Regions from separate parts of the Homo sapiens genome. Here all the other regions are reported to be linked to region 3. Evidence: microRNA targets listed by miRTarBase, many of them from high-throughput screens and not tested one by one. Region 3 holds a microRNA gene; each other region holds the end of a gene's coding sequence.
Evidence for each region. The annotated mature microRNA hsa-miR-3140-3p reads AGCUUUUGGGAAUUCAGGUAGU and lies in region 3 at 4,062-4,083, opposite strand. An mRNA with a match to its seed (bases 2 to 7 or 8) in the 3' UTR can be bound and repressed. Matches are read on the target gene's strand: a 7mer-m8 pairs with bases 2 to 8, a 7mer-A1 pairs with bases 2 to 7 and ends in A, and an 8mer does both.

Region 1 (7,647 bases), not on the chromosome of region 3:
CAAAGAGAACAAGCAAATGTAGGTCGAAGAAATATTGCAGAAATGCAGGTACTTGGAGGATATGAAAGAGGAGAAGATAATAATGAAGAATTAGAGGTATCTATAATTTTTCCCCAAGTTTACCAATGTTAGACTGTGGTTGTTTTATGTAGTTAGGAACCTTCATCAGTGTACAGAAATGTTACTGTTTTATTGCAAACTTTTCAGTACTCTAATGTCTATGATGGCAGAAACTGAAGTTCTGAGAATTTGAGAATTTTCTTGAAATGTGTCCCAAAGTTTTAAATGTTAATGGCAGTTTATTTGTTTAGCTAGGGTTTATCTTCATTTGCAGATTTTCAGATAAGAAACATATATGGCAAACACATTGTTAAGAAGTAAGAGCTGTTGATCTAGAGCTATTATAATTCATAGCATTGTAGCAGGCTATAAAAACCCAGTAAGATGACAGAGTTATATGATGTGAGTGAGGAAGTTGCCATAGTCAGCACCAGGGTAATGTGGCTGGTTTGGCTAACTGTCCTTCACCTTTACACTTCTGAAAGTGTATGCCTAGTCTGTGACACTGACCTCCCCAGTTGGAGGAAACTTCTTACGTCAAAGATATACTCTCTTGTTAGCCTTGACATATCATAAATTCTCCCCTCACCCATTCAAAGATTGTATTTTCTCAATTTAATAAAAGTTGAGGAAAATTTTTTAATAAATATAGTTAAACTCAAGTAGATAAATACGTGTCAAATGACAACTTTTTATAGTAGAAGCTGAAAAGGTATAGGCCATTATGTCTAATTGAAAGTCCTATAAAGCTCAATGTATTTCGATTTTGAGGTTTAGAATGAGAAAGACTTTCCTCCTGCAAACAGAGAAGTTGTTTTTCAGGTCTTAGTTTATTTTAAAATAGAAGTAGCCTTTTGGGGGAACAGAATGGCCTTACTGTTAACTCCAGTATTTAAAACCAACAAAAGCAGAGTTGTAATGTTGACTTGGGGCTGAGGGGATTAGATAACTCAACACATTCCTTCCCGCTTCTCAGAGCCCTGTGTCCCACCACGCAACACCGGGGCACTGTGCAGAACCCAGTTTGGTACTTGTTGAATTTGCTGTGAAGACCAATTAAGGTTGATGAATGAATTAGTTGACATGAGCCCTTTCCAACATAGTCCATTGAATAAATGAAAAGACACATTAAATTATAATAATAATAAATGCATATAAATAAATATAACACAATCCTCTTAAGATTTATTTTCAAATGTGACAATAACGTATCTCTTACAGGAAACTGAAAGCTGAAGACAACCAAGAGGCTTATGAGATCTAATGTGAAAATCATCACTCAAGATGCCTCCTGTCAGATGACACATGACGCCAGATAAAATGTTCAGTGCAATCAGAGTGTACAAATTGTCGTTTTTATTCCTCTTATTGGGATATCATTTTAAAAACTTTATTGGGTTTTTATTGTTGTTGTTTGATCCCTAACCCTACAAAGAGCCTTCCTATTCCCCTCGCTGTTGGAGCAAACCATTATACCTTACTTCCAGCAAGCAAAGTGCTTTGACTTCTTGCTTCAGTCATCAGCCAGCAAGAGGGAACAAAACTGTTCTTTTGCATTTTGCCGCTGAGATATGGCATTGCACTGCTTATATGCCAAGCTAATTTATAGCAAGATATTGATCAAATATAGAAAGTTGATATTCAACCTCACAAGGGCTCTCAAAGTATAATCTTTCTATAGCCAACTGCTAATGCAAATTAAAACATATTTCATTTTAACATGATTTCAAAATCAGTTTTTCATACTACCCTTTGCTGGAAGAAACTAAAAATATAGCAAATGCAGAACCACAAACAATTCGAATGGGGTAGAAACATTGTAAATATTTACTCTTTGCAAACCCTGGTGGTATTTTATTTTGGCTTCATTTCAATCATTGAAGTATATTCTTATTGGAAATGTACTTTTGGATAAGTAGGGCTAAGCCAGTTGGATCTCTGGTTGTCTAGTCATTGTCATAAGTAAACCTAGTAAAACCTTGTTCTATTTTTCAATCATCAAAAAGTAATTATAAATACGTATTACAAACAAGTGGATGTTTTTAATGACCAATTGAGTAAGAACATCCCTGTCTTAACTGGCCTAAATTTCTTCTGGTAGTGTCAGTTCAACTTTCAGAAGTGCCACTTAAGGAAGTTTGATTTTTGTTTTTGTAATGCACTGTTTTTAATCTCTCTCTCTTTTTTTTTTTTTTTTTGGTTTTAAAAGCACAATCACTAAACTTTATTTGTAAACCATTGTAACTATTAACCTTTTTTGTCTTATTGAAAAAAAAAATGTTGAGAAGCGTTTTTAACCTGTTTTGTTAATGCTCTATGTTTGTATTTGGAATATTTGAATAATGACAGATGGTGAAGTAACATGCATACTTTATTGTGGGCCATGAACCAAATGGTTCTTACTTTTCCTGGACTTAAAGAAAAAAAGAGGTTTAAGTTTGTTGTGGCCAATGTCGAAACCTACAAGATTTCCTTAAAATCTCTAATAGAGGCATTACTTGCTTTCAATTGACAAATGATGCCCTCTGACTAGTAGATTTCTATGATCCTTTTTTGTCATTTTATGAATATCATTGATTTTATAATTGGTGCTATTTGAAGAAAAAAATGTACATTTATTCATAGATAGATAAGTATCAGGTCTGACCCCAGTGGAAAACAAAGCCAAACAAAACTGAACCACAAAAAAAAAGGCTGGTGTTCACCAAAACCAAACTTGTTCATTTAGATAATTTGAAAAAGTTCCATAGAAAAGGCGTGCAGTACTAAGGGAACAATCCATGTGATTAATGTTTTCATTATGTTCATGTAAGAAGCCCCTTATTTTTAGCCATAATTTTGCATACTGAAAATCCAATAATCAGAAAAGTAATTTTGTCACATTATTTATTAAAAATGTTCTCAAATACATCTTTCTTTCTTGTGTTGATTTCTTTTTTCATTGTGTGCTGATCAAATTTATTCCATTTAATCACAAAGTCGTTCTGTCTTAACATTTCACCCCTGTATTATCAGATGAGTGAAAATTCTCAATTAGTTGTATGAATAACCAGGCTTTACTGTAAGCAAAATTTTACCTAAGTCCTCTGAAATTAAAAATGTAAGATCAGTCAAGACCTAGAAGTGAATAATTGGATCAGAGACTAAGTCTTCTTTAATATTAAGGGTATATTATTTTTGTTTATGTATGTGTATCTGAGTTTCAGTTAATCTATTTCATCTATTTCTAAAATAATTGGGATTCAACTAGATAAATGTGATTTGTAAAGTTTGAGCCACCTATGTTCTGTCAGCAAGAAAATTAATTATATAACTCTGAAATGCTTATCAGTAACTATCTGCTTTCTTGTTACGAATTCACGTAAAATTTTAACAATACCTATCATATACCAGGTTATACATTATTAAAGTTAGTTAGTGTATCCAGGTATTCAACTTTAGATGAACAATATGGGCACCATGTCTTGGAAGTTCCAAGAGCAACAGAATCTGATGTAGGTTTTTTCCCTTTCACATATATATTGCTCTTCTACCTAAATTTTGTGTTTATCAGAATTTGAAAATATGAGGGAAAACAGTGAAAAAAAGGGGTTTAATCTGAAATTTAATTTTATAAAAATGAAGTAATCACCAGCATCTACTTAAAGATGAACAGGTCCACAGGTCAAGAAGTCAATTTCTAAAAGCTACTTTAAGGAAAAATTAGAGGGACATGTGTAGTGACGTAATTTCTCTCTTACCCCTGGTGAGTTGACTATAAATATAAGTTAGTCTCTCTCTTTATTTATAATATGTGATAATACATACCGATTCTGTATATCAGAGGACCTGGGTTTGAGTCGCAGTTTTGTCACAGCTGTGTTTCCTCGGAGATGTTACTTAACCTCTAAGTCTCAGGTACTTCACCTGTAAATTCAATAATACCTACCTCATGGAGCCGTTGTCATGATTCAGTGAGTTAATGTGTATGATATGGACTCTGTAAACTCCATCAATGATACAAGATATTGTTATATTTATGGACTGAAATTCATTACACATGCAATCCCTGCTTTTCATACCTAGTTTGTTTCTGAGTATTTGCACGAAAGTCAAAGAATAAGTGTGGTACCAGGATGAGGGTGGTTTCATTTCCGGTGAGTAAAATTCACTGTGAAATTCCTAATTGTGGAATAAATAATTGGTGTTTTTGTTTGTTTTGTTGCTCTTGAATTCGAGGGCCACACAGCGGGTGGTGTTATGGTGTCTGCAGCACACATTTCACAATTCGTGGGTACAGACAGGAGTTCTCAACAATTAAACTCGTTGTTTATTTTGGGCTGCTATTCTGCCTAGTGGCAGAAGATATAATCTTAATTCCAGGTGAAATCGACGATACCTGGCTTTTTTGATTATTTCATATATAGTCTGGATTTCTTCTTTGCACACAGTGACATCTGAATTTCAGAGCTGTCCCCATGTGTAGAATGTGTGGGTGGTCAGGAAGCAGGCGGCTTTGGGGATTGCTGTTGGCCAAGTTTCATTAAATGATCTTCATTTTTGTCAGAACTTTACTCTGTATCCTCTTCTCCCAACCTTAATGCCTCTTATTATCCATTGATCCTCTCCTGATACTTCTAAGTCCTTCAATGTAGGGTGGGTGTAAAGAGTAAGGAAGGAGAGTTCCATATGCTCTTCTGTGCCATGCTGGGGCTCTAAGGACTTGAGACTTCCTTGGGGTCTCACAAGATACTACAATGGCCCCTAAACTGCTTGCTGCATTTGGACTGTGTGTTGGTTGAGGGAAGGGGTGAGAGCAACTTCTGCAGTTTTGAAGAAAAGAGCCTAATAATTTGCATTTTGGAGGCAATCCTATTTATGTTAAAAATAGTTTGGTAGCTACCACCCTAACAACTCAAAGATAAGTTTCATCGTAGTACAGCTGAAACTGAAATGAATCTTATAGGCATTAGTGTCTCACAATCACTTTCACCTTTTCATTGCTCGCTGTTTAAAAACATAAGCCTCAAAGAAACAGAGCATGCATCAAACTTTTGTTTACCTCGTTAATACAGTAAACAGCAGAAAGACAAAGAGCAGTCAAATGGCAGCTGTGAAAGAAACTTAACTATGATGGCTGAGTTAGTAAACTTTCTTTTTTTTCTTTTTCTTTTTTTTTTTTCTTTAAGACAGTCTCACTCTGTCACCCAGGCTGGAGTGCAATGGCATGATCTTGGTTCACTGCAACCCCCCACCTCCCGGGTTCAAGCAATTCTCCCTGTCTCAGCCTTCTGAGCCGCTGGGATTATAGGTGCCCGCCACCATGCCCGGCTAATTTTTGTATTTTTAGTAGATACGGGGTTTCACCATGTTGGCCTGGCTAGTCTTGAACTCCTGACCTCAGGCAATCCACCCACATCAGCCTCCCAAAGTGCTGAGATGATTACAAGCGTGAGCCACCGCACCCAGCCGAGTTAGTAAACTTTCTACAGGGCAATACAAACATGATACTAATTTTTACTGGGCTAGAGAGTCATGACATCTATCTTTTTCTTTAGGTTAAATAACCATTAACCTTCAAGACTACAGGAAGTCTGAAGTCGGCCACCTTTATCATTTGGAAATTATCTGTCGAAAATATACCTTGGTAATTTACATTCACTCAGGAGAATCAGATAAAGGTTCGACAGTGACTTACTCTTGTTCATGTTTCCCCAGAAGCAGAGCCTGCGACAAAGACTTGGATGCAAACAGTTTATTTGGGATAGAATCCCAGGAAGTGGGAGTGTGAGGGGAATAAAATTCAATATAGATCCTTCAAAGTAGGTGAAGGTGCCTCTACCAGGTACTCTACCGGCTCTTCCCAGGAGCACACAGAATGCCTAACAGAACTTTTCACTGAAGGACAGTAGCCCAAAATTATTCCCCATTAGCTGAAGGTTTCAGGCTGCAGGCGGGGCAGGGGATTTCACTTCCCGGTACTAGTGAGCAGACCAAGTGTGAATGGAAGACCCTAAGGCAGAAAGAAGACATGCACATGGCAGGTAGTTGAGTTGGGAAGGTGCCAAAATGAGGTGAGTCTGGGATCAAAGGGAACTTTTGGCCCTAGCAAAACCTCAAAGGCATCTATTGCTGGCAGGATTATTGGAAAATGTTTTAGTATGGTAATAAAAATCAAGCAATCATTAATTTACCATTTTTCAGATTTAAGATAAATTTTCCTTCATAATGTACACATATGAAGTTAGTTATAGGTATTCAAATTACTTTCACATTGGTGGAGTTTTTACCAGTTATCAATTTCTGGTACTATAGGTGTTGAATTTAATTGACATTTAACATATTTTGAAAATTTTTTTACAGTATTAGCATTGAAACAAAACGAGCAAAAAGCATGGAGAAACACCATTGAGATGTGACTTGGATCCTTAGAGGAATAACCAGTTACGCATTTTCTGGCAAAGCAACAAGCTTTACAGTACCACAGAAAGTAAAATATCCACAGTAATTCAAGTTGTGCCTTCCAACACACACATATATGCACACACACATATACAATGTTATTGAAGGCCAGTAAAATTATGAAATTCCTCAAAATAAAGTGAAAAAAAGTTTCAAGCAAAGTTGAGCATGGTGTAACCAATTTATGTGTTTTGCAAAACTATCGTTGAGACATTATATCATGACAAAAATTGGTAGCATTTCACAGTGACACACAAAGTTTTTAAATTCAATGAAAATTACATTAAAAAGTAACATGTATACAATCCCATTGCCTTATATTGGACTCATTATATTTACATAGATTGGATACTGTTAGGGACTGAATGTTTATGTCCTCCCTGAATTCATATGTTAAAATTCTAACCCCCAATGTGATGGTTTTAGGATGTGGGGCGTTTGGGAGGTAACTAGGTTTTGATGGTGGAGGCTTCATGAATAGGATTAGTGCTCTTATAAAAAACAACAACAACAACAAACAAACAAACAAACAAAAGCAACCCTAGAGAGCTCTTTCTTCTTCCTGCAATGAAACAAGGAAATGTCAGCAGTCTGCAACCCAGAAGAGGGCTATCACCAGAAGTCAGCTATGCTAGCCCTGTGATCTTGGACTTCCAGCTTCCAAAACTGTGAGAAATACATTTCTCTTGTTTACAAGCCACCCTGTCTATGGGACTTCGTTACAGAAGCTTGAACTGCCTAATACAGGTACTTCTTTTTAAAATTCAAATCTTTGACATAAATCACTAGCTCCACATCTAAGTTAATCTTCCCTCTTTCAGAAATTCTCTTTCTGTTTGGGAAAAACTCTGAGCTCTTCAACTTTGAGTAAAACAGCTTTTAATGCCTCTGGTTCAAGTTACTTTTATAGCCTGCTCAGCTTCAGAAATTTAAAAAAGTAACCTGGGCAAGTAGGGCTTCTTTTCCTGCCCAGTACCTGTACTTTGGCCTGCCTTCCTTGAAACTTTCAAGTCCTCCTCTGGTGCCTGAGATGGGCCTGGGAAGGCAGTGCCAATAGGACTGGGTACTGGAGCCTGGAGGAGGACTAATGTAGGCCCAGGCCCCCTGCATATGGGATTAATATTTGAGGAGCTGCACAATTCAGAA
Region 2 (7,647 bases), not on the chromosome of region 3:
CACTCTTGCACTATTCCTTCTCCAAGCCAGAAACCACATTTAATTTCATAAATAAATTTATGAAAAGTAACCTGGCTGCTAGCCCGTTTTCTGTGGGTGTGCGTGCATTTTCCTGTGGCCAGCAGCCTCTAAAGGTGGGGTGGGGGCTCACCTGTCGCAGATCACACCCTCGGGGATTTAGTGGAGATGATAGGCTGAGGCGGGGCTGGCTGCAGTTGTTCGCCTAAGGCGAGCAGGGCCAGGCCATGCTGGTTGCTGATGGGGAATACAGGTAGCTCTGCCCTCCCTTGCACTCAAGACCCAGAAACCAGTGCTTCCCTGTGTTTGTTTGACTGGAGCTGGCCCACGTGAGTTTGGTGGGTGAGTAGTCAGTAATCTTTCTGGGCCTCAGCATCCCTGGTGAAATGAGGAAGAACGTGTCTTCCCAGGGTCTTCTGACCCTGGCCACAGAAGCCAGAAGGGGAGCATGGTGCTGCTTCCCTCCCTGTCCCACTTGGGAAAATGGTCCCCTGCAACCTGCTGCCTCCACCACACTCCAGCACTGCCAAGGTCACTGGGGCTGGACGCCATGGTGGTCTTCTTCTCAAAACCCCTGGCAATCTCCCAACTTGAGAGAAGCCCCAGCACCTCCCAGTCAGGCCATGCTACCTCTAGACAAAAACCCATATGGAGAAATCATGAAAACCACAATATGCAACACAAGTCAATCTTTATTGAAAACTGCAGTATTAATACATAACAATTCTTGTTACAATAAACGTGCTTTTGAGATTTTTAAATCTGAGCTCATCTCATCAGATTGCATAAAAAATTAAAATAGTATCAATTGACACCTAACTGAACTGGCTCAGGATGGAAATTCCATTCCTTGGCATGGATACGTAAGTTCAATGCAGAGGTGAGGGATGCCTTTAACACTGGAAGACAATGCTGACTTAGCTTAAAAAAAGTACCGAGAGAACGGTGTAAAAAACGGTATTTAAAAATCATTTTTAAAAAAACAAAAAGGAACCGTTTCTTCTTTAGTTACAATCCATGAGGCTCTCTAGGGCCTCTCCGTGTGGCCAGCACAGCAACCCTGCTAGGAGCACAAACGGCTGGCCTGAGATCTGGCCCAGCTGCCTTGCCCACTGGTCTGCACAGGGACTCATGGGCACAGCCTGTGGTGAGGAGGAGACACCTGTCATGCCAGTCCTGGGAGCACACCACCCTTCTGCAGGCCCGGGGGGGGGTCCCTACACAGACGCCGCTCATCCTCTGTCTCCCCTTCCCAAGTGACTTCACTTCAGTCCTGTGGACCAAGATAAGGCTATCCCCACAGGCTCTCTCTTCTTCAAATAATGAGTAGGAAAAAGAGACAAACTTTCTGAAACATGCAGTTTCCGACCCAAATAGGCCACATACCCCAACTTCTGTGTTACTTGGTCAGTTGAGCCCCTGGAGCCCTCAGGACCTACTGATAAAGCATGTCCTCTGCAGTATACTCAAGAGTCTGCTGCCCTTCAGAAAGCCAGAGGGAACACTCACAAATGCAGAGGTACTAGAGGGGAGAAATACGTGCTCTGCCTTCCCCCAGGCCAACCACACTCTGCTTTAGAGACCCTCTCAGAAAGCACCAGAGAGGAGGACCAGACGCTGCCACCCACCTCAAGCCACACCCCTGCCACCTGCTGCTGCGCCCAATGGAGGTCCTGTCCTGTCCGGGCAACAGCCAAACTGGCGACAATGGACACATCCAACAGTCAGCTGTCGGATAAGGTGAAGGTGGCCCAACTGCTCAGAGTAACACTGTTCTCAAATGTTTAAAAAGGACAGGTGAAGTCTGGGTCTCCTTTTTTAAAGCAGACACCAATACTTACATAACTAGTACATGTTGGCCTTTCACCAGCACTCACTGGCACTCACAGGTGCCTTACATACCTTACGGGGGCCAACACTGACAGGTATTAGTACGTCGCAAGTTGCTGTAATAATGTATTTCCTCTCGTTACTGTTGTGTCCCCCAAGACACATGCAAATTATTTCCTAGACCTCATTCATCACAGCCAGATGATGCCACCAGAAAGAGCAAGGTACTGTATGCCCAGCTGGGGAAGGGCAAGACACTCACTGACCAGGTGCCCACCCCAAGGCTCAGGACCACCCCCATTGCCTGTGAACACATTTGCATAGCACTCAAGAAGGTTTCCCAGAATAGCGACAGGTAGGCCTACAAACCACACCAAGAAGAACGTTCTTAACAGATGGCTCACGAGAGACATAAAAGGTTCTGGAAGTGCCTTCAGGCCCATTACCATGACTGGCCCTGACTCTGGCCCTCACAGAGCGGCAAGTTCATGGGTCACTGGCTCACACTAAATGCTCAGCCGCCAGCACAGATCCAAACAAGACCTCCATGAGCAGAGAAACTGCAGCGGCTGAACACACTCCCCAAGCCTCAGGGGAGAAGGTGTAGAACAAATATTTTTTAAATAGCCATCATGATGTCCATGTTTACATGAACTAGGTCCTTTGCTTACCTGCTGTCTCAACTTCTAAAAGAATAGTAATTCAGCTGAAGGACTCCCAAATTAGGAATGTCAAACACACAAAAAGCAAATTTCTCAGAATGCTCCACCATATGCTTCGGGACAAATTATGAAGCTTTGTAACAGAATTTTGACCCAAGTTCTATTTCTTAATTGACTTTAATTTTACTAGAAGCGAATGTTGATAAAATTACAACCTATGACAGTTTTGTGACTATTTCCTAAGTCCAGATTCTTACCTGATATCTACCTTTCGTATCTGACAGCTGACGTCCTAAAAATTTCAAAGTCAGAAAGATTTCTGCACGGATGTGCAATGCAAACTTATTTCATAAAGCCTCTCAACTTCATAAAAGGGAAAAAAGGTTAAGTTACAGGGAGGAAGAAAAGTGTTTATGAAGCTGATGTAAATGGCGTGTGGGGGGTGCAGCCCACTCTTTAAAACACCATCCTGTGTGTGCCAAGTACCAAGCAAGCCTGAAGAGATGCCTGTAACTTCTAACCTCCTCCTGAACCCCAAGACTCCAGCCCTCACAGGAGTTGTACATGTATGTTTCCATTTTGTTGTGTGGGGCTTTTTAAAAGCATACACTAACATTGTGAGTATTTTATCCTAATCTATTAGCACTCAATTGGGAAAAAAGACTTCTCTGCTACTTGGTCAGCTGAACCCCTGGAACCGTTAGAACCTACTAATCCTGCCAACCATCCACTAAACAGATGGAATTACCAACAGAGACTTGAAGAAAGGGGCACAAACTGTGTGCCTGCGGTAAATGTCTGCCCCCACACATAGACACTAAGATGGATTAAGTGCTCATGAAGCAATTTAAAGTACTTATCAGTAAACATTCTATGTTAATAGACATCAGGAATAAAGAATCTGCTGTTTACAATGATCCATGCAAAAATATTCCTAAACTTCTTATAAAATAAGATGTGAAAAAGAAAATTATAAGAAGTACTTACTATAAAAAATAAGGTTACCAAAGGCTCAGTGGTCAGGTGTCCCCCCACCAACCAACTGGGGCAGAATGCTAGTGGGCATCCTCACTGGGCGCCAGTGCCCTGACCCAGCTACCAGCAAATGAAGAGGAGCAGAGCCCCCTCCCCACCAGAGCCCACAGCACTCAAACCACCACTGCACTGGGAAGAAGACGCACGCTCCTGCCCTAGAGGCCGCTGAAAGGGACCCAGGCCTTACATCCCCCACCCCCACTCTGACCCTCACTGAGAACCGACATGCACTCTCATGGATACAGGACGGGCATATTTTGGGGGCGGGGTGGAGGGAAGCCTTTTCATTTCTTATGTACAAGATTCAGATCCTAAACTCAAATTCCTCTCCCACAATAAACCCTGCCAGCAAACGCACTCCAGCACTGCCTGGCCCTCTCTGCTGTCTGTGCTTGCTTTGTGCCAAGTGCCCTCAGCTGCAAAAGAGATGGCAGGAGAGGCTCGCAGACAACAGACACTGGCCTCCCCCTCGCCCCATCTCTAAGCGTCCCCTCCAGCCGGCCTCAGCAGACAAGTCACCACCATCAGGTGGGTGATCCCAGAAGCAGCTACAGGTTTCTACATTTCCAGACATATCCACGGCCCTGCCTTTCTACAAGAAATTGGAGGAATTTTAAATAAAGTTTTGTTCCCTTTTAACTCATTCTTAAATATACCACTTTCTTCATAACATACAGCTGAAACCTTTGCCCTTCTTTGTTGGGGAAAAACAGCAATGCCTACCTGTTTTCAGCTGATTCAAACATTTCTCCAGGAAAAAAAAAAAAAAAGGAATGATTTTCTAAGCTAAATAAAGCAGAGGACAATACCTCCTGCAAGCATGGCTGTTTCTCTTTCACATTTCTTCCATCCCAGGAAAATAATTTAGTTTTACATAGGACTTTTCCAATAAAGACATATAAAAACATCATCTCTCTAAGAGAACTGTAATGAAAATTTAGATAGCAGAGAAACTGCTTTGCTGACACATAAACCACCCCCCTCGCCCCAAATTTCACTGGCCACACTACCATAATCTTTCATGATGAGCTTTAAGCATGTCCCTGTTCCACTGACTCCACCAAGCCTAAACTCAAAGGGATGTCCATGAACCAGCTGCACCCAAGCAGCTGTGGCTTCCCTACTCTCTCCCAAACCTCGCAACTCCCTCCCAGGACAGTCAGTGCCAAAGAAACAGGTCGCTGAAAACTAAAATGTCCACATCCCTAACTGGCAACCCACATCAACCCCAAAAGGTTGAAGAATCATCTAAGATATTTCAGATGCTCTATGAAGAAATTCACTTTAACACTTATAACTGTAAGACTTTGCATACATTACAACAGTGCATTAGTGATACAAGTTGTAAAATACGTTTCCATTCCTTTGGATTTTGCATATGATGGTTTTGCATCAGTCACTGCAGGTAGATTGAGCAAGCTTTTTGTGTTTGTTTTTTTAAACATGCATTCAACTAGATATGATTCAGAATAGATTAATACTCCCTTTTTATCATTACAGTTAGCTAAAAAATTGCCAGGCAGTCCACAAAACAGAATTTGCTTTAAGACCAACCCACAGAGTCAGCTGGAGACTAACGGCGCTGGGGCCTGCTGGGCCGGGATATAGTCGTGTTTAGCTAAGTGTCGAGAGCATTAAGAAGAAAGTCCTGGTTGGAGGCGCAAGGCCTGCAGCACCAGCTGTGGAATCCCCAATAATGTGACTGCACAGCTCCGTCCTCAAACCTGCAGAAAGGAAGACAGACACTCAGTCACACAGAGCTCTTCCGGCACCGCTATTCCAAAATCTCAAGTAGGATGAGGCCCAGCAGGGTCGGAAAGGGCAGCAATGGGCAAAACTGCTGGACCTGGTTCTCACTTCCTTCCTAGAGACCCCCAATTGCAACTGGAGCCCTATTTCCTGTAGCAGGCAGGTGGGGGGTTAGAGCACATTCCAGGCAAGGCTCAAGATGGACAGTGTCAACAGTAGGTATTCAATGGTTCCTTCCTTCCTTCTACTCTGTAATGTCTCAATAAAAACAAAAAATTTAAACACTACATTGCCTCTGGATCCAGGGTCAGGCACACTTTCCTCGTTAGTGCTTAAATATGTGGTAAATTTGCCACTGTCCCATGGAAATGCCCTTTCATCAAAGGCTAGCCCAGCCTTCCCTGGTCACTTACATTTGCAGGTGATCACCACTGAGGGGGCACATAGCTGTAAGTGGGCGTTCCTGGGGCCCGGTACGTGGGCACAGTGACCGGGTGGGGGGCGACAGGAGTTGGGGAGTGAGCAGTCAGCAGGGTACCTGGAAGAAAGAGCAGCACATGACATGAGGCTGACCTCCTGCACAGCTCCACACTGCCTGATACGCACACAAGCCTGGCCTCTTTGCAAGGAGGAGGGTATACAGGAAGAGGGATAGTCTTGACCCAGATACTGTCAGAACTCTGATTAGATAATCCCCCACACCCAAAAGTTGTCTCCACACAGCAAGCTCCACAGACAATATGTTCGTAAAAGCCTTTTGTGTGTCCCCTTCATAAAGCACACCCAATAATTTTTATAGGTCAGATGATAAACAAATGAGTATGCTTCAGCCTTAACAAGGAAGGAGATTCTGACACATGCTACAATATAGATGAACCTTAAGAACATAATTCTGAAAGAAAGAAGCCAGTCACTAAAAGACAAATACTTAATGATTCCACTTAGATGAAGTACCTGGAGTAGTCAAATTCAGAGACAGAAAGAAAGTAGAACAGGGAATTAGCGTTAATGAGTACAGGAGTTCAGATTTGCAGGATAAAGACGTTCTGGAGCTCTGTTTCACAACAATGTGAATATACTTAACACTACTGAACCGTACTTAAAAAGGGTTAAGATGGGCTGGGCACAGGGGCTCATGTCTGTAATCCCAACACTCTGGGAGGCTGGGGTGGGAGGATAGCTTAAGTTCAGGAGCTTGAGATGCGCCTGGGCAACATAGTGAGATCCCAGCTCTACAAAAAGTTTTAAAATTAGCCAGGTGTGGTAGCATACTTATAGTCCCAGCTACTCAGGAAGCTAAGGTGGGAGGATGGCTTGAGCCCATGAGTTCCAGACTACAGTGAACTGTGATCGCACCACTGCACTCAAGCCTGGGCAAAAGGGCAAGACCCTGTCTCAACAAAAAAAAGTTAAGATGGTAAAAACAAATAAATAAAAAACAAGAGGCTGGCAACAGTGACTCACGCCTGTAAGCCCAGCACTCTGGGAGGCCGAGGCAGGTGGATCACCTGAGGTCAGGAGTTCGAGACCAGCCTGGCCAACATGGTGAAATCCCATCTCTACCAAAAGGTACAAAAAAATATTAGGCAGGCATGGTGGCAGGCGCCTGTAGTCCCAGCTACTGGGAAGGATGAGGTGGGAAAATCACTTGAACCTAGGAGGCAGAGGTTGCAGTAAGCTGAGATCACACCACTGCACTCCATCTTGGCTGACAGGATGAGACCCTGTCTTAAAAAAAAATATTAAAAATTTTAAAATTAAAAAAAAAAAAAAGAAATGAGGATTCTAAACTACATGAGCTTCTGAGTTCTTTAAGAGAAATCTATTTTTCCTACAACTGCAGAAACTCAACAACTACTTGAGTCCCTTTATGGACCAGCACCACCTCCAACACAGTGGCACCCAACCTGGTGCCTGCTGCCCTCCCTCCCTGTGCCTCAAACCAGCAGTTTCTGTCTATGCCCAGTTTCCTGTTCCTTGACAGATAAGTATGGGGAAAACCAAATCAGAGTCTACATTGAAGCACACATAATAACCCGGAATGCTTTTCTCTCTGGCATAATTTCCTTACACTGAAGTCAAGTCCAGAAAAACAAGGAGGGAACAGTACGCTTTTGTGTGGGCATGACCTAAAGGTGGTCATATTGACCCAGAGACCAGGAGGTGAATCCACATGGGTGGTCATACAGATTGGGTGGTCACCCAATCCCTAGACATCAGATCAAACCCCCAGGGCTTCCGCGGAGATGTGCCCATCCCAGCCAGGGGCCTCATCTTTCCATGGTTTATTTTCCTTAGAGGAGGCCTTGCAAAGTAAAGTACGGTAGATGAATGCCAAAGGATTTCTACAGGC
Region 3 (8,399 bases):
GTTTCAAATTGCCTATGTGAAAAATATAATTAAAATAACTATAAGCATAGCGATCTGACTATATACCTTCACTGGGCTATACGCTATAAATAAAAAACTGCATAGAAATCTTAAACTTTATTGAGATTATTATTAGTAGTGGTATTGCTATAGTAATTCCAATGTTATATCATGTATAAGACAGAGCAAATGAATAAACATATATTGATGTTATTGGTAAACTGGATCTTCATTATGGAAGAGGAATATGAAACAAGGAAAGAAAAGAACCTTGGTGTCACTAGGAATTCAAATATCACTAGTTTTTAAAAGTATATTTTCTTATTCTGTCTAATGAAAAGAACCAATAGAAGCAATGACACCCAGTAATGCATCCATGATGTTGGCTTCCAAATACCATTCCCCACTAAGAGAAACAAGAACTTTTGGTAAAATAGCCAAGTCCAGGTCTGGGGTAAGAAAACCATAAGGTAAGGAGAGAATGTTTTGTTGTGCCACAAAGCAAACTGGTGCTATAAAAATGAGGGGGCATGTCAAAGAAACAGAAACCAGACTGATTGAGTTCTCGCTGGCTAAATTTTAACAATTTGAGTCACCAAAGGATACACAGTCATGCGTCACATAACCACAGGGATATCTTCTGAGAAATGTGTTTGTTAGGCTATTCCCTCACTGTGCTAACATCACAGAGTGTATTTACACAAGCCTACACGGTATAGCCCATTGCTCCTAGGCTACAAACCTGTATACCATATTACTGTACTGAATACTGCCTGGTAACTGTAACATGGTGCGTCTGAGAATATCTAGACATAGAAAAGGTACAGTAAAAATACAGTATAAAAGATTTTTTAAAATCATATGCCTATATAGGGCACTTACTATGAATGGAGCTTACAGGACTGGAAGCTGCTCTGGGTGAGTTAATGATTGAGTGAAGAGTGAATGTGAAGGCCTAGGTCGTTACTGCACACGGCTGTAGGCTTTGTAAATATACACTCAAACCACACTACATCTATTTTTAAACATTTTCTTTCTTCAATAATAAACCTTAGCTCATATAAACTTTTTAGTTTTTAAACTTTTCTGACTTTTGTAATAACATTTAGCGTAAAACTAACATATTGTACAGCTGCACAAAAATATTTTCTTTCCTTTTATCTTTATTTTACAAGCCTTTTCTATTTTAAAAAATTCCTGTTTTACTTTTAAAACTGTTTTGCTAAAACCTAAGACACAAACAAACACATTAGACTAGCCCTACACAGGGTCAGGATCATCAGTATCACTGTCTTCCACCTCCACATACTGTCTCACTGGAAGGTCTTCAGGGACAATAACATGCACAGAGCTGTCATCTCCTATAATAACAATGTCTCTGGAGTACGTCCTGAAGGAACTGCCTGAGGCTGTTTTGCAGTTAACTTTTTTTTTTAATAAGTAGAAGTACATTCAAAATAACAACAAAAAGTATAGCATAGTAAATACATAAACCGTTAACATAGCTGTTTATTATTATTATCAAGTATTATGTACTGTACACAATTATATGTGCTATACTTTTAGACTGGCAGCACAGTAGATTTGACTTACACTAACATCACTACAAACATGTAATATGTTGGTTGTGACGTTAGTCCTAACATGTTATAACAGCTACAACGTCACTATGCGATAGAAATTTTTCAGCTCCATTATAATCTCATGGGATCAATGTCGTATATGCAGTGCATGACTACATAACAATAATGGATTTTAGTTCACCGAATTAATGAAGAAACCATGAGCCCTTAGTGAAAGGACAGAAACTCCTTTACAGAAAGAAGAATGCCAGCTAATAAATGTGGAAAGAATAATAGATGTAGAAAATCATTTTGCAAGCATCAATGTAACCAATAATTCAGGCATAAATCAATAATGGATGTTAAAAACACTGGGTGAAAGGCTGTTGAGAAACAATGTTTACTCAGTCTCAAGGCATTACCCCACAGATTAATGATTAATTATCAAGGGGAAAAGGATACTTTTACAATAGAGAAATCAGGTCACACCACCTTAACCAAGTAATCAAACTAAACATCATAAATAATGGACCAAACTAATAATTCAGAGGATAAAATAAACAAACTTTAAGTACATACAAATATCAACATGAATAAATCTTGATGTAAATAAACACTGAGTGAAAAAAGCAAGTTAAAAAGTTATGCCAACAGTATATTATTATTCACATTTTAAAAGGAAATCAGTACTGTTTATCTTTTTATACAAATATGTGGTAAAAAGTATTGAAAACTTACAGGATACCTTTAGAAAAGTAATTACCTCTGAGAAGAGAGGCAAAAGAATGAGATTAGTAATCTTCAATTATATTTTTAATTTATTTTAAAAAGTTCTGAAACAGTGATAGCAAAAAGTTAACATTTGTTAAATTTTGGCAGTACAGATACATAAGCATCTTATATTCTTCCTTGTATTTTTTATATTTTGAAGTATCATTTAAAATTGTTAAATTTAAAATGGACTGCTGCTACATAATTTTCAGTTTTAATAGCTATACAATACTTAGTTCTGTAATTCTTGCTGTTTAAAACAACCGTTTTGAAGAACTTTGATTTAGAAGGTCACCAGTGGTTCCTATTTTAATCTTTAATGTAAATTAACAGAAGCAAATTGGCACTTCCAAAATGATTCTAATAAGCAAAATGCATTCCATTTAAACAAATAAAAAATAATGTTAAAAGTATGCCATCCAAGTGGCATTACATCTCCAGTTTAATACTTCCTGTATCTCATATTGCTTTTAAAACTGAACATTCTTTGGAGAATTGAAAGTTTGACTATTTTAATAATTTGCTTTTGTCAATCACTTTGACTAACTCTACAAAATCATCCTATTAAAGTTATTATTTTAAATATCAATTAATAGGTCTATAAAAAACCTACTGTTATAAGACTGGTGCATAAAAAAATATAAATTTTTCAAGTGATTTAGCAGTAATTTAGTTCTTCATCATGTTCCTTAAAAGGCTTTAATCTATAATCTATTTGTAAAAACTTTCTATTTTCTCCTTAAGAGAAGGTCAACGGCTTTCACTTCACTTGTCTAACATAATCATGAATTGAAATAAGAACTCTCAGCTCTTTGGAACGACAATGCTACCAGTATGCCTAGGCCAATAAAGCGATTCGTTCATTAATGCTGCTAATAAAGCAACCTTTTGTTAGTCTATGAAACATCAGAAACCTTACAGACTCTAACTTTGCAATTTTTCCCTGTTTTGCCACATGAACTTAAAAGTTCTCTTACATGCCATTTACTTTAATAACTAAAACACTATCATTCAAAAATTCAATCTTCCACTCTAGGTAAGTTAATAACTTAAAAAATATTCGCTCCAACTGCAGAAATTTCTAGATGAAATTATGTTTTAATTAATTATTCTCTTGTGTTTTCCCATAAAAACCAATCTGTATAGAAGTCTGTGCTATCTTCTATTAAACAACTAAAGGAACTACCCATATAATATTCTCAAAAAGAAAAGCATAAATGTTCATTTATTCAATTAGCACCAATCAACTACAGTAAGCAAGGCAAAGAAAATACAGCAAAGATTAATACACAATTCCTGCCCTCAAGCAACTCAATTTAGGGAGTAAGCCAGGTATCTGTAAAAATTACTGTAAGGTAGTTTATAATATTAACTACTAAATATAATAGTATAAAGAATATAATTAACAGAGCTTAGACAGGATTTTTTAAAACCTTCCATGAGACTTTTGAGGCTAAATAGAGAATAGTCTATTTTAGGTAAATAAACAGCACGTATAGAAACACAGATGCATCAAACACCAAGGTAAATTCAGAAATTCTTAATTCTGTAAGGCTCAAGGGTATCATGTATGTAAGGAATTATTAGGAAATGTCTGTCAGTTCACAAAGGGCCATGTTTGTGTTGCCCTCGAATTTGAACTTTATTCTAGGCAATTGGCAGTAATTAAAAGGCTATAAGAAGTAGTGTATGGTGCTCAGTTCTGTTTTTTAGAAAAGTCACTCCTGAACTACCTGAATTCCCAAAAGCTCTTATTTTCAATAACTTCAGAATACATAAAGCTTTTGGTAATTCAGGTACCTCAAGAGGACATAAATGGTAGGCTTCCAAGCCTACCAAGACATTCATACTCAGTATAACTATATACCTACTCTATACTGCTAACTTAAGTTTAGCATTTTCTAAACTAACTGTCACTTAAAGAGAAAAATCAATACATGAAATATTGGTTCTAATATTAGTCAACTATTTTTAAACCTCTTCAAAGTATTGGGAAAATATCAGTTTCCAGGAATTATAAAGTCATGTTATTGATACATTTTAAGAGTTGCAGTTAAAGTCAACAGGATGTGTTTAGAATTTATAAAATTAATCTTAAAATTTAGCCCACTGTAATCCTTACTGTGAACATCCCTGGAACTGAAACCTGGCACCCTTATCTTCTTCTGAGCACTGTCTTTTATGCTTACTACCCTCCCCTCAATACCACCCCCATGCCTACCTTGAAAACTCCATGTTCTTACATGACCCTGGGCTACAGTGAATTAGTCCAACTTGACCCAGCCATACCAATGTTTTCAGTTGTTACCTATTATGACTAAATCCATAAGCATTCTTTAAAAAAAGCCTTGCAAACATGTTTTCATTTCTATTAGGGAAGTACTTTCTTCAACCACAAAAAATGGAACTAGAAGTCGCTACAACATGAATTAACTTTGAAAATATTATGCCAAATGAAATGAGAGGACAATAAGACAAACACTGTATGATTCTATTTATGAGGTACCTAGAATAGTCATAATCATAAAGACAGAGTATAACATACGTTACCAGGAAATCAGGGGAGGAAAGATGGGAGTTATTGTTTAATGGGTATCAAGTTTTTATTTGCGATGATGAAAAACTTCTGGAAATGGACAGAGATGGATGGTTGCAAAATATTGTGAATGTACTTGATGCCACTGAATTGTATATTTAAAAATGGTTGAAATGTAAATTTTATACTATGTATATTTTGCCACCAATAAAGAAAAAAACCTTAGAGGAAAAATTTGTTACTTATTGGACTCCCTAGAACCCAAGAAAGTAAAAAAGATCTAACATTTAATAAGTACCAGGCATTACATATACTACCTCAAATAGCCCTCCCAACAACACTATAAGGTACACTTAGTATCTCTGTTTTAATGAGGAAGAAACAGGCAAAAAGCAGATAACTCAAAAGTCACAGAGCTAGGAAATATTGGGCATAGGACTCAAACCCTGGCAGTCTGACTCTGTCTCTCAAGCAGCAGCATAAGTTAAAAAAACATTCATTACAGAAATCTATGTTGTTAAAATTGCCTAAATACTCCATGGAAATATGAACTGGCAAAAATCAAAACATAATCCTGCACCTACAATACCAATAGTGTGTATCTGCATTAAGGACAACATGTTTAATGGTATAATTATAAGCAAAGCAGATTTTTTCTATCTTTATTACTTATGAGCTCACACCTTCATTTGGCAGTAAGATATATCAAAATTTAAAACATACAGCAAGCAGTACAAAAAATAACAAAACAACAAGCTCTTAAAGATCGCTGTCCCTGATAAATACCAAAACTAATAGTCAAAGGAAGAAGCACATTAGAGAAGAGAGAAAAAAGAGGTGATTTAGAATATTCTTTGTAAAGAGGAAAGGGGTCTTTCACTCACACGGCTTAATACATTAATAAGGAAGAAGCATAATAAAGCTCAAGGGCATTTGAGAACCAACTGACAGGACTTTCCGGATATAGTTCCAGATCTAATAACACAGTTTTATTGCCCCTTGTTTTTATCAGATGCCAATAAAATCAGAAAGAAACCATTATCATTTCTCAGTCATTCTCTCACATTCATACATTTTATAACATACTGACCTTACAACATAAGCAGTAATAGAATAGCTCTTCAATTTGGGTATCCTTCAATTTTTTTAAAAAACTACACCAACATAATCATTCAATAAATGTATTATTATTCTAGACATTAAAACAGCAAGAATAGATATATCTTTCCCTCCAAAAACTTAGGCTTAGTCTAGTGTAGAGGTTGATAATAGTTAAGCAAATAAATCATAATTAAGATAAAAGCTATGAAAGGACTTAACAGGGGCACTTAAAACTAGTGAGTGTTCTGAATCAGAAAAGGCTTTCCCCCATGGACGTGACGTTTAGAATGATATTTGGAAGATGTCTTAAAAAGTCAAGAGGAATTCAGGATAGTGGCTGGTGGGGAGAAAGGAGTGCTGAATCAGGGTACGATTCACAGAGAAGAAAATTACATTAGTAAGCATTCTTTATTAAGCTGGCAGTCAGACCACAGGTGCTGTTTAAGTGTCTTCGTAACTTTGATTTAAAAAGATCTTTATATGGAAAACTTTGAACACACAAAAAACAAACAAAATAGTATACTAAACTTCCCCACATCCATTACTCAACTTCAGCAACCACCAACGTTCTGCAATTCTTCTTTCATCTACACCTCCCACTCCCTGTCACCTAACTCAATTATTTCTATAATTTTTAGATAAAACTTGTTTATTTTATCTAAGATACATGTATGCCATTGAAATACATACTTCTTAGCTGTACAACTTTAATAGATAAGCCCATGTAACACACACCTCTATGAGATATGGAACATTTTCATCACTTCAAGAAGGCCCCTTATGCACCCTCCCAGTTGAATATCACCATTTTCCAGAAGCAAAAGGCAACCTTTGTTCTGTTTTTATTTTTTCACTCCAGAGTAGCTTTGCCTCTTCTAGAACTTAATATAAATGGAATAATACAGTATCATGTCCAGCTTCCTTTGCCAAGTATGTCAGATTCATCCATGTCATGTTGTGTACATTTGCCATTCTGTAGTTCTTTTATTACTGAGTGGCATTCCATTGTATGAATATACCAAAAAATTTTTAGTCATTAATCCTATTGACATTTGGGCTGCTTCTAGTTGTCAGCTGTAAGGAGTAAATCGACTGTAAATATAATTTTTAAAAGTTTTTTGTGGACATGTTTTCATTCCTTTTCCGAAAACACCTAGAAGTAGAATTGCTGGATCCAAAGGTGTATGCTTAAATTTATAAGAAATTGCCAGTGGTATTCCAAAGTGGCTCTCCCATTTTATACTCACACCAGCAATTTACGAGTGTTCTGGATGGCTTCCTAGAATATTTGTAGTTGACAGTCTTTTTAATTTTACCCCTTCTAGTTGGTTTTAGTGATTATTTTATGGTTTAAGTCTGCATTTCCCTAATAACTAATGTTTTTATCTTTTGTATGTATTGAAAACTGGGTAATGTTGTAAATGAAAAATGAGGAGCATATTAACATAGGAAATAAGAGCAAAGACTCTGGAGGAAAAGGTATATTACGCCTGGACCAAGAGGCCGTGCTTTGCTATAGTGCAGCTATGGCAAAGAGTAACAAAGAATAGTAAGGCTAAGGAGGTAGATTAGGGTCAAATCACATGGATGGGGATTATTATGAGTTCAGATTTGAACTCGTTTTTTTAAGGTACCTCTAGGATAAGCTAAATGGCATTATTAAATAGGTCTGAAACTCAGGCAAATTAAGTGCTGGAACAACAGGTATGCAGTTCCTTCATAAATGGAAATCAAAGTGGTAAGACTGCCTGGGGAGAAATAACAGAAGTAAGAGAAGCAGAAAATACCAAAGGACCAAGACTCAAGAAATTTCTACTTTTAATAACCAAGCAGAAGAGAAGCCTGTTAAAAAAAGGCTGAAGAGCAATAGATCAGAGAGGCAAAATGAAAACCAAAGAGTTTAAAGGATAGTTTTTTTGTTTTTTGTTTTTTTTTCCAGAGACAGACTCTCGCTTTGTTGCCCAGGCTGGAGTGCAGTGGCGCAATCTTGGCTCACTGCAAACTCTGCCTCCCAGGTTCAAGCGATTCTCGTGCCTCAGCCTCCCGAGTAGCTGCGATTACAGACATGTGCCACCAAACCTGGCTTATTTTTGTATCTTTAGCAGAGACAGGGTTTCACCATGTTGGTCAGGCTGGTCTCGAACTCCTGACCTCAGGTGATCCACCCGCCTCGGCCTCCCAAAGTGTTGGGATTACAGGTGTAAGCCAATGCGTCCAGCCAAGGATAGTTTTTCAAAACTGTTTAAACCTGCTAGGAGATTATGTGCCAAACTGTCTCCCCCAAAATTCACGTGTTGAAGCCCTAACCCCCAGTACGTCAGAACACGACTGTATTTGGATATAGGGCCTTTAGAGAGGTGAGTAAATTCATCTTCCAGGCCCTAATCCAATCTGGACACAGACACCAGAAATGCATGCAAACAGAGGAA

Region 1: miRTarBase lists ROBO1 as a target of hsa-miR-3140-3p. Seed matches in the 3' UTR shown: 7mer-A1 at 2,265-2,271.
Region 2: miRTarBase lists FAM168B as a target of hsa-miR-3140-3p. Seed matches in the 3' UTR shown: 8mer at 761-768.

The regions. Positions count from the first base shown.
Region 1 is chr3:78,592,562-78,600,208 of GRCh38, reverse strand. It overlaps ROBO1 (roundabout guidance receptor 1), which reads left to right. Exons shown (of 31, transcript NM_002941.4): 30 at 1-96; 31 at 1,282-2,970. The coding sequence ends at 1,296. Among named protein-coding and RNA genes, the nearest start is that of LINC02077, 550 kb to the right of the region's middle.
Region 2 is chr2:131,047,184-131,054,830 of GRCh38, forward strand. FAM168B (family with sequence similarity 168 member B) reads right to left here. Exons shown (of 7, transcript NM_001009993.4): 6 at 5,708-5,832; 7 at 693-5,269. The coding sequence ends at 5,720. ARHGEF4 (Rho guanine nucleotide exchange factor 4) reads left to right here. Exons shown (of 14, transcript NM_001367493.1): 14 at 1-70. Among named protein-coding and RNA genes, the nearest start is that of SMIM39, 16 kb to the left of the region's middle.
Region 3 is chr4:152,485,275-152,493,673 of GRCh38, forward strand. It overlaps MIR3140 (microRNA 3140), which reads right to left and starts at 4,142; the gene lies at 4,053-4,142. The region is part of intron 2 of FBXW7 (F-box and WD repeat domain containing 7); the gene reads right to left. RefSeq lists an enhancer at 702-971.